4 linked regions of the Homo sapiens genome follow. The protein of the gene in region 2 interacts with the protein of the main gene of each other region in a pairwise test. Each region holds a gene or a part of one and is shown on either strand. Other genes may lie near its edges.

The links.
Region 1: the proteins of SACM1L (region 2) and TRPV2 interact in a protein complementation assay, tested with the Homo sapiens proteins (one study listed by IntAct).
Region 3: the proteins of SACM1L (region 2) and MTERF2 interact in binary tests that used the Homo sapiens proteins (3 or more experiments, as listed by UniProt).
Region 4: the proteins of SACM1L (region 2) and RNF19B interact in a two-hybrid assay, tested with the Homo sapiens proteins (one large-scale study listed by BioGRID and IntAct).

What each region holds. Positions count from the first base shown.
Region 1 is NC_000017.11:16,422,071-16,425,570, forward strand, and holds part of TRPV2 (transient receptor potential cation channel subfamily V member 2), read left to right. Parts: intron 1-528; coding exon 529-819; intron 820-1,398; coding exon 1,399-1,697; intron 1,698-3,500. UniProt on the Homo sapiens protein: Calcium-permeable, non-selective cation channel with an outward rectification. Seems to be regulated, at least in part, by IGF1, PDGF and neuropeptide head activator. May transduce physical stimuli in mast cells.
Region 2 is NC_000003.12:45,706,396-45,709,895, forward strand, and holds part of SACM1L (phosphatidylinositol-3-phosphatase SAC1), read left to right. Parts: intron 1-384; coding exon 385-512; intron 513-3,102; coding exon 3,103-3,252; intron 3,253-3,500.
Region 3 is NC_000012.12:106,980,647-106,984,146, forward strand, and holds part of MTERF2 (transcription termination factor 2, mitochondrial precursor), read right to left. Parts: intron 68-3,500; exon of another isoform or gene 1-67. UniProt on the Homo sapiens protein: Binds mitochondrial DNA and plays a role in the regulation of transcription of mitochondrial mRNA and rRNA species.
Region 4 is NC_000001.11:32,947,810-32,951,309, forward strand, and holds part of RNF19B (E3 ubiquitin-protein ligase RNF19B), read right to left. Parts: coding exon of another isoform or gene 3,485-3,500; exon of another isoform or gene 3,399-3,484; intron 1,966-3,398; coding exon 1,760-1,965; intron 558-1,759; coding exon of another isoform or gene 555-557; coding exon 413-554; intron 1-412. Other genes in the region: metallothionein-1E-like, read right to left, coding at 3,485-3,500.

The DNA.
Region 1 (3,500 bases), on a different chromosome or scaffold from region 2:
GAGGTGGGCAGATCATGAGATCAGGAGATCGAGACCATCCTGGCTAACACGGTAAAACCCGTCTCTGCTGAAAACAAAAAACAAAACAAAACAACAAAAAAAATTAGCCGGGTGTGGCGGTGTGCGCCTGTGGTCCCAGCTGCTGGGGAGGCTGAGGCAGGAAAACGGCGTGAACCTGGGAGGCAGAGCTTGCAGTGAGCCAAGATTGCGCCACTGCACTCCAGCCTGGGTGACAGAGCAAGACTCTGTCTCAAAAAAAAAAAAAAAAGAAAAGAAAAGAAAAGAAAAAGAAAAAAAAAGAAATTTCGTTTCTAGGGCAGAAATTGTAGTCATGTCTGTTGGTATTTCTTATCTGTTACTTGGAGCCTTAATAGCCTATAACATGGTTGTGCTCCCACCAGTTATGTGTAGCATCTCTTTTAATCCTCCCAAGGGGTACTTTGAGCTGGGCTTATAAGAGCTATCGGGCAGCCCAGCCACTCCAGGTCTCAGCACCACTGTGCCCCTTCCCCTCCCTTCTTCCCACAGAGGGCTCCACAGGTAAGACGTGCCTGATGAAGGCTGTGCTGAACCTTAAGGACGGAGTCAATGCCTGCATTCTGCCACTGCTGCAGATCGACAGGGACTCTGGCAATCCTCAGCCCCTGGTAAATGCCCAGTGCACAGATGACTATTACCGAGGCCACAGCGCTCTGCACATCGCCATTGAGAAGAGGAGTCTGCAGTGTGTGAAGCTCCTGGTGGAGAATGGGGCCAATGTGCATGCCCGGGCCTGCGGCCGCTTCTTCCAGAAGGGCCAAGGGACTTGCTTTTATTTCGGTGAGTGAGCCTTTCTTGGATAAATCGAGGCAAAGAGAGAGTAAGGCCTGGTTCAAGGTCACATGGTTAGTGTATGACAGAGCTGGCAGTTAAACCTAGGTTTTTCTGACCCCGATGCCCTGCTTCTAACCACTAGGCTGCCTGCAAAAGCAGTTTGTCTTTTGTCCAGGCCAGCCTCAAACTCCTGGGTTCTAACAATCCTCCTGCCTTAGCTTCTCGAGCTGGGGCTACAAGTGTGTGCCACCACATCCAGCATTAATTTGTCATAAGAGATGTTTCATCCTCGTCTGGCCAGAAGACGGGCATGCACCCAGACCCAGACCCAGGGAAAGAAATAGGGGCTGCTAGCACTGGCATGTGACTTGGCCAGGCAGAGCCTGAATAAAGAGGCAGCATGCCTGGGCTCTGGCAAAGAAGACAGCAAAAGGCAGCAGGTTGGCTGGCCCCTGTTCTGCTCCCTTCAGTGGTAAAGAAGCCTGACCTGTTTCAAGGAGGGCTGGCCTTTTGTCCAAGGAGCATGAGGAGTAGGCAGATGGAAAGCAGGAGGCCTGGGGCCCAAGCTGCTCTCTTGGCCTGCAGGTGAGCTACCCCTCTCTTTGGCCGCTTGCACCAAGCAGTGGGATGTGGTAAGCTACCTCCTGGAGAACCCACACCAGCCCGCCAGCCTGCAGGCCACTGACTCCCAGGGCAACACAGTCCTGCATGCCCTAGTGATGATCTCGGACAACTCAGCTGAGAACATTGCACTGGTGACCAGCATGTATGATGGGCTCCTCCAAGCTGGGGCCCGCCTCTGCCCTACCGTGCAGCTTGAGGACATCCGCAACCTGCAGGATCTCACGCCTCTGAAGCTGGCCGCCAAGGAGGGCAAGATCGAGGTGAGCGGCTGTCCCCTTCCCACTTCCCCTCTCCAGGAAGCAGTAGGTCTCATCCCAAAATTTCTGCAGAAAGAACCCAGGGGGTGGTGAAGAGCAGTGGCTTCTCTGCTTTTCAATGGAACACTCCTGTTAGTAAGAAAATTTTCAGTATGTACCTCTGATATATTTCTGTTTATTTATAAATTGCATATGAACTACTGAATATATTACATTATAAAACATTGAGATTTTTTTTTTTTGAGACGGTGTTTCGCTCTTGTTGCCCAGGCTGGAGTGCAATGGTGCGACCTCGGCTCACCGCAACCTCTGCTTCCCAGGTTCAAGCGATTCTCCTGCCTCAGCCTCCCAAGTAGCTGGGATTACAGGCATGTGCCACCACACCCAGCTAATTTTGTTTTTTTTTTTTTTGAGACGGACCCTCGCTCTGTCACCCAGGCTGGAGTGCAGTGACATGATCTCGGCTCACTGCAACCTCTGCCTCCCAGGTTCAAGCAATTCTCCTGCCTCAGCCCCCTGAGTAGCTGGGATTACAGGCACCCACCACCATGCCTGGCTAATTTTTTTTTTGTATTTTCAGTAAAGAGGGGTTTCACCATGTTGGTCAGGCTGGTCTTGAACTCCTGACCTCGTGATCCACCCGCTTCGGCCTCCCAAAGTGCTGGGATTACAGGCACGCGCCACTGCACCCAGCTAATTTTTTGTATTTTTAGTAGAGATGGGGTTTCACCATGTTGGCCAGGCTGGTCTTGAACTCCTGACCTCAGGTGATCTGCCCACCTCGGCCTCCCAAAGTGCTGGGATTACAGGTGTGAGCCATGGCACCCGGCCAAACATTGGGAATTTTTAAAAGTCGTTTGTGTTTCTTTATTAAGAGATAGCCTTTTTATATCTTTTGCCTATTTTGCTATTCTGTTTCTGCATATTTATTGATAACTTTATAATGAATTTAGTATTTTGTCTACCATAGCACTTGTAAAATTTCTCCTAGTTCATCATTTGTCTTTTGAATTTTATGTTTTTTTTGCTATACAGGATTTAAAAATTTTTATAATCTGCAAGTGTGACTATCTTTTCCTTTAAGGTTCCATGGTTTTGCTATTGTCTAATTCCTGCTACAAGATTTTATATATATAATACATATTATATGTACATAATATATGTTATAACTATTATACATTATATTATACATTATAATTATATATAGTATATATATAATCTTCATACCCATATTTTCTTCCAAACTTTTGCAGCTGCATTTTTTTTTTTTTTTTTTTGAGATGGAGTTTCGCTCTTGTTGCCCAGGCTGGAGTACAATGGCGCGATCTCGGCTAACTGCAACCTCCGCCTCCGGAGTTCAAGCGATTCTCTTGCCTCAGCCTCCCGAGTAGCTGGGATTACAGGCATGTGCCACCACGCCCGGCTAATTTTGTATTTTTAGTAGAGACGGGGTTTCTCCATGTTGGTCAGGCTGGTCTCAAACTCCCGACCTCTGGTGATCCACCTGCCTCAGCCTCCCAAAGTGCTGAGATTACAGGCATGAGCCGAAACGCCCAGCCTGCAGCTGCATTTTTAATGCCTAGAGCTTTGACTAGCTGGAAGTTATTCTGGTAGGAAGAGTAAACATGAGGCAGCCCCCACTTTGTTCCAGATAGCTTACCAATGGCCTGTTCCAAATAGCTTTTGCCAATAGCTCACCAGGGCTGGCCTCATGGGCTTACAGTGGAGATTTTTGAAAGATTAAGGAAACGATAAACATAAATAGAAGTTTTAACCCTTTTTCGCTGCCCTCCCAAGTTTTTTGGA
Region 2 (3,500 bases):
GTCAGATCTCACGTCCTGATGCTTTAAGCTGCCTGCTGGGAAATGATTAGCAGAGGTCTGTATCCCTTGGGGGTGATGAAAGAGAGAAAGAGAAGTATTTTCTGTCTCTACTTTCCATTTACTAAGACAAATCCTTTGGTTATGAAAAGCTTTTGCTTTTATCTTTTTTGAGAAAAACATGACCTTTCAGTAAGAATTTTTCTAAATAATATGCTGACCTTTCTATTCATAAATTGTAAGGTTGCTTTAAAAATGGGCCTTTTATCTGAGTGGCACAATATAGTCTCATTCTACTAGCCTTTAAAGTTAAACAATAAGGACTCCTATTTCTACCTTTAGAGTTACTATTTTTATAATTATGTGTGTTTGGCTTGCTTTTTGCAGGTAATTATCTTATAGTCATTACCAAAAAGATAAAAGTAGGTGAATTTTTCAGTCATGTAGTCTGGAAAGCAACAGATTTTGATGTCCTTTCTTATAAGAAGACAATGTTGCACTTAACTGATATTCAGGTAAGAACTGGAAATTGTTACTAATTGCAGCGCCCAAAGAAGTAGCATGGGCTGGGGAGAGGAGGGTGAGGGTGTTGTGGAATACAAAGAATGCTATAATTATTTTAACAACCTATAGAGTAAGATCACTCTACCTACTTTTCTACCTAGGCATAAAAAATATTTTTTAAATCATTTGTTGCTCTTGTTTTTTTTTTTTTAAAGATTCAGTTCTTAAATTATGCAATTTCATATGGAGAGAAGGGAAAACAGAAATGCACGGGTACTCAACACCAGATTTAACTTCATATCCTCTTTGTAAAGAAATAAAATATAAATACCTTTGAAGTTCTACTCCTCTTAACTCATTCCCTTCTTTCCCAGAGAGGTTTTCTCTATTTTTACCACATGTGAATGTAAGTGTGTGTGTGTGTTTATGAAATGTGTATATATTCTTTCAGGCAGTTTTCCTTTTGCACTATTCCTGTATGCACAGATTTCAGTAACCATAGTTTAGTTAACACCAGTACCCAAACAGCATGGCTTAAATTTCAGTTACTCCAGTTTATTAACTGAAGAATTAACCCACCAAAGATGAAGGTGCAAAAAAACAAAAAGCAACAACTCTGGAAGAGAAATTGAAATTGAACATAAATGGAGCATAGAAGAAGTAGCTGACCATGGGAATGCTGACACTATTCACCATTCAAGGGACAGTAGGTATGCAGCCAGAGGTCCTGGTGCAGGCGAACTGACCGACATTAATGATGGAGTGGCTGTGACGAAAGGGATGACAGTATCCCAGAGAAAGTGATGCCTGCAACAGACTTCCCATTAAAGGAAACCTTGGAGATATTTCCCAACATTGAAAGTGCAAAGGATAAAATGTCAGAAGTTGGTTTAGACTTAGGAAGGTGTATGACAGTTCACCAGGGATAGAAGAAATATTCTGTATCTTAATCTATATGACAAGAAGGCGGCAAGCACTGTTCAAGTCTCTTGATAAATTTTTTTACAAAGAAAATATTTTTTATTCTCGGTGTTTCTAATGTTTTAAATTATAGTGTGCTAAATATTAGTTTTACAATTTGTTCATTTATGCTTATAATTTACTATATATAACTTACAAGTTACATCTACAACGTAACTATATAAGTTAATATCTATAACTAATATCTATAACTTACAATAGAGTTTTTAATGTTTTGACAAAAAAAATTTTTAAAGGTCATGAAACAGTCATAGTTTTTACAATTGACTGTTAAGATAGCTTAAGATTATTAAGATGAAAATAACATGGTAATTTTTACATTCCCACTTTACAAAGTAAAGACTGCCTGTATTCATATTTAAACAGGATCTGTTTTTGCTCGGAGTGTGTATGAAACTTACATGAATGGCATTGCCCTGTTCTGATTCTTTGAAACTTACTTTTTAAAGTCAACATTGTTTAGAGATATATATACCTGTTGAGAGTGATTGTTTTCTTAATGTAATTTTAGTTACATGTTTGCTATTTAAAAATTTTAAGTTGTATTTTTACACCCAATTTATAAGAATGTTTCTAGAAGAAAATATATTATTCTAAAACATATAACTTAGGATAAACATTTTAAAAAATAAAATTATAGCACTGCCTACCTGAGTAAAACTACAGGATATGCTTTTTATACTTTAGAATTTCTTTTTTATTATATATATCAAGAAATATATATCAATATCTTCATTCTCTACTAGGCATATTTTAAAGAAATAAAAACAGCTGTATTTATTTAATAGACCAGTCATATTTACTTAGACAATTTCTTCTCGATTGTTATTCTTTGTTGTCAAGCTGTGTAGCTAATTTTAAAAACATGTCTGAGCACAAATAAAAAATTTTGTATATGTAGATTTGTAACATGTAGATTAACAAGTTAATCATTTAGTAATGATTAAACGTTACCAAACATTAACAATTGTTTTTTAAAACAAGGATAAAAACAAATGTCAATCTTAGTATTCATTGGGAAAGCTAGTTAAAATGGTTTCCCAAAAATAAAGATAAATATTGCTTTTACTGGACTTTTTAATCTTTGTTTTAAAGAAAAAGAATTCCATTTTACTTCTCGTCCATCCCAAACCAGGGAACGTTTCTTGAGAATGTGGATGATGTTAGTATCTTGTTATTTGCTGTTTGCATTATTGGGCCCGTCGTAAATTTATGTGTTTTATTTGTCGAAGATAGCTATGCTAACTTAGCAGGGCTGTTGTGAAGATTAAAGGGAATCTTTGGAAAATACCTGGCACACAGTAGGTCATAACCGAAGGTGATGTTTTGTTAAAACTACTCTTCTGCCTTTGAGAATAAAATTTGTAAAGGATACAAAGGGGAGGAGTCCTACCTAATCAAGTTACCTAATAGTACCCTACAGTGTTTATTGAGTATCTTCTGTGTGTCAGGAACTGTCCTACATCCCAGGGAAATGGCGAGCATCCCCCTCACTGGCTCAGTCCTTGTGCCAGTAGTCTTTAATGAGACTGGACTTAACAGGATTTAATTTGTATTCTTTTCTCATGCTGGCAGATTCCTTTTCAATTATGAGCTATACTGATTTTTCTTTGTTTATAGTTACAAGATAATAAAACCTTCCTAGCGATGCTAAACCATGTCTTGAATGTGGATGGATTTTACTTTTCAACAACATATGATTTGACCCATACTTTGCAGCGGCTATCCAACACTAGTCCTGAATTCCAAGAAATGAGTCTCTTGGAAAGGGTAAGCTTGATCTTCAATTATTTTTATTTTTAGGTTTTTAAAAGGGACATGTCTCTGTTTCATGCATAAAAATTTATATTGATTTTTCTCAGTCCTGGCTATCTTAGAATCATGTATGAGGCTTTGAAAATATACCCTGTTTTAAATATACATCACAATCCCAGTGTGTGAGTCCTTGAATCTGTGTATATATACAGCCAGAATTGAGAATCACTGGTGTAGATATTCAGAAATCTTTGTATAAACAC
Region 3 (3,500 bases), on a different chromosome or scaffold from region 2:
TTGCCACAAAAGTGTGTAGTACGGCTCAATTTAGCCTGTTGGCAGCCTTCCCTCACTCTTTACAGGTCTGAAAGAAAAGAAGAAAGCAGCCATTTCCATCCCTGACTTTAATTTAAACGCCCTTGCCAGGTATGCTGGGGACTCTTCACTTTCAGCCCTGTCTTAACTAATCCAAATAAATGATTATTCTGTTAGGAAAGTTAGGTAACACCCTTTCCATTTTGGTTTCCCATTTTGATTTAGCTCACTGTGAGCGCCTATGGAGACTAAAATAATTGTAGGCATAGCTTGTTTTACTCTTAGTGGTTCAACTAGAATTTTCTTCAGATAATTCCTAATACTGTTAAGCCAAGATGAAAATATTATTTTAAAAACTTTCTAAGAAGGCCATCAACTTGAACAGGAAGGAGGCGGCGCAGCATGATGAAGCACAGGCAGATCTGGGCTGGGATCCCGCTCCCCACTCCCTGTTGAGCGACCCCACAAGCTCAGGCTGCACCTCTGTACCACACGTGGGGGAGGAGCGTGGGCTGCTGCCAACCACCCACACCCAATCCTGGCTCTAGCTTATGGGGCACCCTTGGGTAAGTTAGCCTCAGAGAAAACAAGACAGCAGTGATTAGAACAGCGCCTCACACTAACTATTCAATGAGTATTACCAGCAGCAATCTGTGAGATGGAAAGAACAGAATCTAAGCCTTACAGGAAAACTGTAAGGGTTAAAATGCATGTCAAATACTTTGCACAATGCCTGGTACAGAGTAAAATTTCTGGAGCTAGAAGTCTTGTAGTAGTATGACTTTAAATTGTATTTTAGACAGAAATAGATTATTTACAAAGAGAACTGAAAACCAAAAAGTTTATGTATGTATGTATGTATGTATTTAAGAGACAGGTTCTCACTCTGTCACCCAGGCTGGACGGAGTACAGTGGTGTGATCTCGGCTCACTGCAACTTCTGCTTCCTGGGCTCAAGTGATTCTCCAGCCTCAGCCTCCTGAGTAGCTGGGACTACAGCCATGAGCCACCACACCTGGCTAATTTTTGTACTTTTTGTAGAGACAGGGTTTTGCCATGTTGCCCAGGCTGGTCTGGAACTCCTGAGCTCAAGCAGTCCACCCGCCTCGGCCTCCCAAAATGTTGGGATTACAGGTGTGAGCCACCACGCCTGGCCTAAAAAATGGATTTTAAATGCTTCTGTTTCCCAAAATAACTGCTTATAAAAGCAATGCACATTCAATGTGGAAAAATTGCCAACTTCTGGAAAGTATAAGGAAATGGAAAAAGTCTTTCACAATCCCCACCACTGAAGACAACTGTTCATATTTTGGCATACATGATGATGTGTGACCTGAACACATCACAGTTCAGCTTGGAGTAAGCAGGAAATGCAGACAGCTGCTGTTCCCTTAGCCTCACTGTGCAGGAGCCTCTGTCAGTGGATGTGCCTTGCCATGGTCGATGTCCTTCTAATGTTTAATGATCCGTCATTCTGTATAATGTAACCCCCAACCAAGCCAACTGCAGCATCTAGTGCTTAGCCTGGGGTTCCAAACCCCAGGAACTCCTGGCTGTGCTGGACTTGCTGAAAGATAGTGTATTACTGGTCTCCTGTGTGTTACCTTCCCTACACATGGTACTGAGGTTCTGAATTCAGCCTATAAAGTGAAAATTACAAAGACTCAGAATTTTTCTTGAAAATCTCTTATGCAGACACCACACAGATGAAGTAGTTGGTTATGAACTGTGATGTGTTCAGATGAGTCGTCTTTACTAGTTAATCTGCCTTGCTTAGTCTCTGATGAGCAAACACAACTGACTATGGAAGTGAAAAGTATGAATGTTGTGACTCCTATGTAATGAACACATAATACATATATTTGTATCTAATTTATCTTTCTGCTTCTATTTTATTCACAGTAAGTATCTAACTGTGGTATTAAAAATGCTCTGTAAACATTTGAGTGCTTGGTATATGGGATGGATATACTGTTATTTTGTAATTCATTCCTTATATTGAGCATTTAGGCTATTTGTAATTTTTGCTATATGCTGAATAAATGTCCACATCTCATATGCTTTTCCTTTAGGATGAATTCCTAGAAATAGATTTCCTGACTGAAGAGGAGATACGTGAACACTGGGAAAGCAAAGCTGCTAAATTTCCTGTCAGGAAAAACTATCTCAGTTGACATTCTCACAGGCAGTATGAGTGATTCTCTCATCAGTTTTTATTTTGATATGTAAAAAATGATACAACACTAATTTAACTTCTTTTTATTATTTATAAGGGTGATGTTTTCATAATTAAACTATTTCGTTCATCTTTATTTCCTTTTGTGAATCAACCATTCCTGACTTGTAAAACTGCAATCGTTCTGCTTTTTAAAAATTGACTTGTATAAACTCTATGAATTAAGAAATATAATCTCATTTTTGAAAATATTTTCTTCAGCTCATTTTCAGTTGTTGATGGTATATTTTAGCATACCAAAGTAGCCCCTTTTTTAATTGTAGTAAGATATAAATAACAAAAAATTTACCATTTAAACCATTTTCAAGTGTACCATTCAGTGGCTTAAAGTATAGTCACAATGTTGTACCACCATGACCACTATCCCAAACACCAACTCTGTCTCTGTGCCCATTAAACAATAACTCTCCATACCCTCTTCCCTCCAGACACCAGTTACCTCTATTTTACTTTCTGTCTCTATGAATTTGCCTATTCTAGGTACTTTTTATATGTGGGGTCATATAATATTTGTCTTTCGTGTCTGGCTTATTTCATTTAGCATAATGTTATCAAAGTTCATATTACAGTATCTGTTAGAACAAAGCAGTTAATTTCACGTGGTCAAAGGAAGGTCAGGGAAGTTTTCCTTGATGATCCTTACTGCTTTTAAGTACCAGATGATCAGTAAAAATTCATCCATTATTTCCTCCCATATTTTTGTTTGAACTTTAAAACTTAGCTCCTTAAGTTCATTTGAAATTTCTGGGTGTGAGCTGAGAATCTAAATAGATTTTATCAATAGTTTACTTCTCTCCAAGTACCATTTTCTGAACAATCCTTTCCTTCCCCATGACTTATGATGCCTCCTTTATCATATGTTAAATGTAGCTTTTGTCTCTAATTTGCCTCCATCCTCATCCCCCTACTTTGCAATTCCCCAAAGGGGCCAAGAGGCTCATTTCTGGTCTTTGCTGCATACTTGGCTCCCCCTGCCAGACCATCCTCAAACCAGCTCTGGTTGACTCACTCTTCCACACTTCCCACCAACTATCTCAAATCTTCTCAACTCAGACCTCTGGCCTCCCACCTACCTCCATACCCACCTTCACTCACAACCAGTGCCCTTGCCTCCTATCTGTACAAAGAAAGGAGAGCAGCTCCTCTCAGCAGACATAAACCTATCACTAGCTCCCCTTCACAGCTTTCATTATCCAGTCACAGCTTTCATTATCCAGGGTCATTCCTGCTCCTGTGCTGAGCTCAG
Region 4 (3,500 bases), on a different chromosome or scaffold from region 2:
ATGACAAAAGATAAAAGAAAGTCAAAGAATGAGGCGGAAAAAGGAGAGGCAACATGGATGAAAGGCATTTAAGTGGCTCTTAAAAGATAAGAACTGAACAAGTTGAGATAAAAGGAGGATACTGGAAGGTAGGCAGAAAGCATTCTAGGCAAAGGAAAGAACATGAACAAGTATGGAGGCAAGACAGCAAAAGGGAAAAAGCAAGTCCAGACTACCTGTAATATGGCAAGCAAAGAAAGGTAGAAACAGAATAGTAGCTGGTGAAAACATGATTAGAGGAGCATGTCAGAAGAAGTTTTCACAGCTTCCTTAAACCTGTAATGAGAGAACGGATGTGTCTTTTTGACATCCTTTTCCCTAAATCAGTAAGAGAATGAGACTACGAAAGGAATGGATGCATTTCCCATCTTACCTGAGGTAATGCAAGTCTGAGATCTCTTTCATACAAAGCCAACAGAATTCACAGCCACACACTGCACAGGTCATGTGATTACAGCTTCCATCATTCATCTTGATAATGTATGCACTGCATCGTGGGCATGGCTTGATGTCATCTGCTATGAGTGGGGGAAGAATGGGTAGAAAAAATACCCCTAGTTAAATCCAGTTTGATTTAATTGTTCCTAGGAGTATATATAAGAAATGAGGCAGCAGTCAAGAACTCTTCACTGAACACTCCAAATTGTACAACCCACTTTACTGGAAGGTTGGCTATGTCTAGACCTCAGGAATTTTCATAAAATGAATCCTGTCTCTTATTGAGCTGCCTATCCCAACAACTGGCATCTTACACAGCACTTGAACCACATTCTAGCAAGGAGATTTCCTTAGGGAGAAAGATGTTTCCAAGAAAAATGAAATTTCTACCAGTCGATAGGCTGGTAGATTTAAAAGAAGAATCCTACAGAAAGAATAGCCTGCAGCCTGGAATTAGCTTTACATTTTTAAAAACTTTAGTTTGGGAAATTTATTTTTCAGGTTCAACATGTATCATTGTGATTTGCTGTTAACATAGCCCACAATCCCTTCCCATGATACTTTCAAATTCAAAACCTAAAAACAACTGGGTATGCTATCTACCATATACTTGGTAATTTTCAGAGCAAGTTATGAACTATCCTAATAAAATGACAATTTAGGAAATTATGCTGTGCCAGGAAAAAGTGAATGGCAAAATCTTTCCTACTAGCCTCTCCCAAATGACATCAGCAAAATAAAAGTACAAAGCAATAAATCCACTGACATTTTAAAATAGGTTTCCTCTGACTCGCCAAGGTTGGAGCTGAATGTGTGACATTCCTCCTTTTAAGGTTAATCATTAATCTATACTAATACTGTTTCCTTTTCTTCAATCTGTACTCTACTTCCAAAGGCAGTGAGGCACTTAAGTCAGCTTGAAGGCAAACAGCACAGGTTTAATACTAATTAAATGTCTTTCTGTTCACAATGAAAGTTTTGAAAAAGCCCCTAGCAAAACAAAATGAACTAATTGCTCTCCAATCTGAGACATATTACTAAGAAAGTAGGAACTACATAATTCAATTTTGTTGCATTTCAATTTTATATAGTTGGATAACCTATAATGGTCAGAGAGGGAAGTGCTATCTTTATTATAATATTGAAAGTATTATCAAATGATATTTTCTGCTCTCTGATCCTTTGGAGTACTTGGGTTATACAATAAGATAATTTCTTTCAGCTATGGGCTCACATCATGAAATACCAAATAAAGAGACAATGAGATAATGCCAACTTATACCTGGTCCAGATTCTTGCCCATAACTGAGACCTGAAGTGTGTTTGGTCCGAACTCGTAAAGTCTGGGCCCTCTGTTGACGGGCCATATCGCATGTCTGATTTGGATGCCATATCTGCTTGCAGTGGTAGCAGAACTCAGTCTGGCAACCTTCCCTCTCACAAGTTAGCTTCGGGCAGCTGGCACAGCCATAGGCAATAACAGCATAACTAGGTAAGGAAACAGTAAGAGATACCAGTAAGGTAAGAATGATCTAACCAAAAGAGACATTATTCATCAGAGTTAACAATGTTTGGCACTACCCCACTATCACATATGATACAGAGAAAAGAATACACATACACACATATACACACACAAGCACATTTGACCAACTGTAAAATATATCCCATGTGAGAAAGTAAACTTTTTTTTTTTGAGACAGTCTTGCTCTGTCACCCAGGCTGGATTGTGGAGTGCAGTGGTGTAATCTCGGCTTACTACAACCTCCACCTCCCAGGTTCAAGCAATTCTCCTGCCACAGACTCCCTAGTAGCTGGGATTACAGGTGCAAGCCACCACGCCTGGCTAATTTTTTTTGTATTTTTAGTAGAGATGGGGTTTCACCATGTTGGCCAGGCTGGTCTCAAACTCCTGACCTCAGGTGATCCACCCGCCTCGGCCTCCCAAAGTGCTGGGATTACAGGCGTGAGCCACCATGCCTGGCTATAAATTTCTTGAGATTCCAAAAACACAAATCATTTATTTACTTTAAAAAGTGGAGGTGGAGTATCTTATTTATCCTGGATTTCCAGCATTTATTCAATCATAGCTGAAGCTGCTTTAGGAGTAGTTTGTCATAATAAGTTTCATAAATAACAGGGTACAAAACTATTTCCTTTTGATAGTTTGCTATATTTAGAGAGATTAGTATTTGTTTATACGAAGGAAGAGGACATTAGTGAAATAAAGAGCTATGGCAAAAACTAAAGTTTATTTTTTAATTCCTTCTTTTTTTTTTTTGAGATGGGGTCTCACTGTCACCCAGGGTGGAATGCAGTGGCTCACTGCAACCTCCGCATACCAGGCTCAAGCAATCCTCTTGCCTCAGCCTCTAGAGTAGCTGGGACTACAGGTGCGCACCACCACACTTGGCTAATTTTTGTAATTTGCATAGAGATGGGGTTTCGCCCCATTGCCCAGGCTGGTCGCAAACTTCCGGGCTCAATCAATCAGCCTGCCTCAGCCTCCCAAAGTGCTGGAATTACAGGCATGAGCCACCATGCTACCTTTTCATTCTTTTTTTTTTTTTTTTGAGATGGAGTCTCGCTCTGTCGCCAGGCTGGAGTGCAGTGGCGCGACTCGGCTCACTGCAACCTCCGCCTCCCGGGTTCAAGCGATTCTCCTGCCTCAGCCTCCTTAGTAGCTGGGACTATAGGCATGCATCACCATGCGCAGCTAATTTTTGTATTTTTGTAGAGATAGGGTTTCACCATGTTGGCCAGGATGGTCTCGATCTCTTGACCTTATGATCCGCCCTCCTCGGCCTCCCAAAGTGCTGGGATTACAGGCGTGAGCCACTGCACTCAGCCTTTTTCATTTTTTTTCTTCAAGTAAAAATTGTTTTATTGTCATTAACATATTTAATATAAAAAGAAATGAAGCAAATGGCTCAGTGTTGTATTTTTTAAAAAATCCAGGTTTGTGCAGGTTACTCTATTTACATCTGGGAGCAGAGCTGTCCCCACGTCAGGCATAGCAGTTG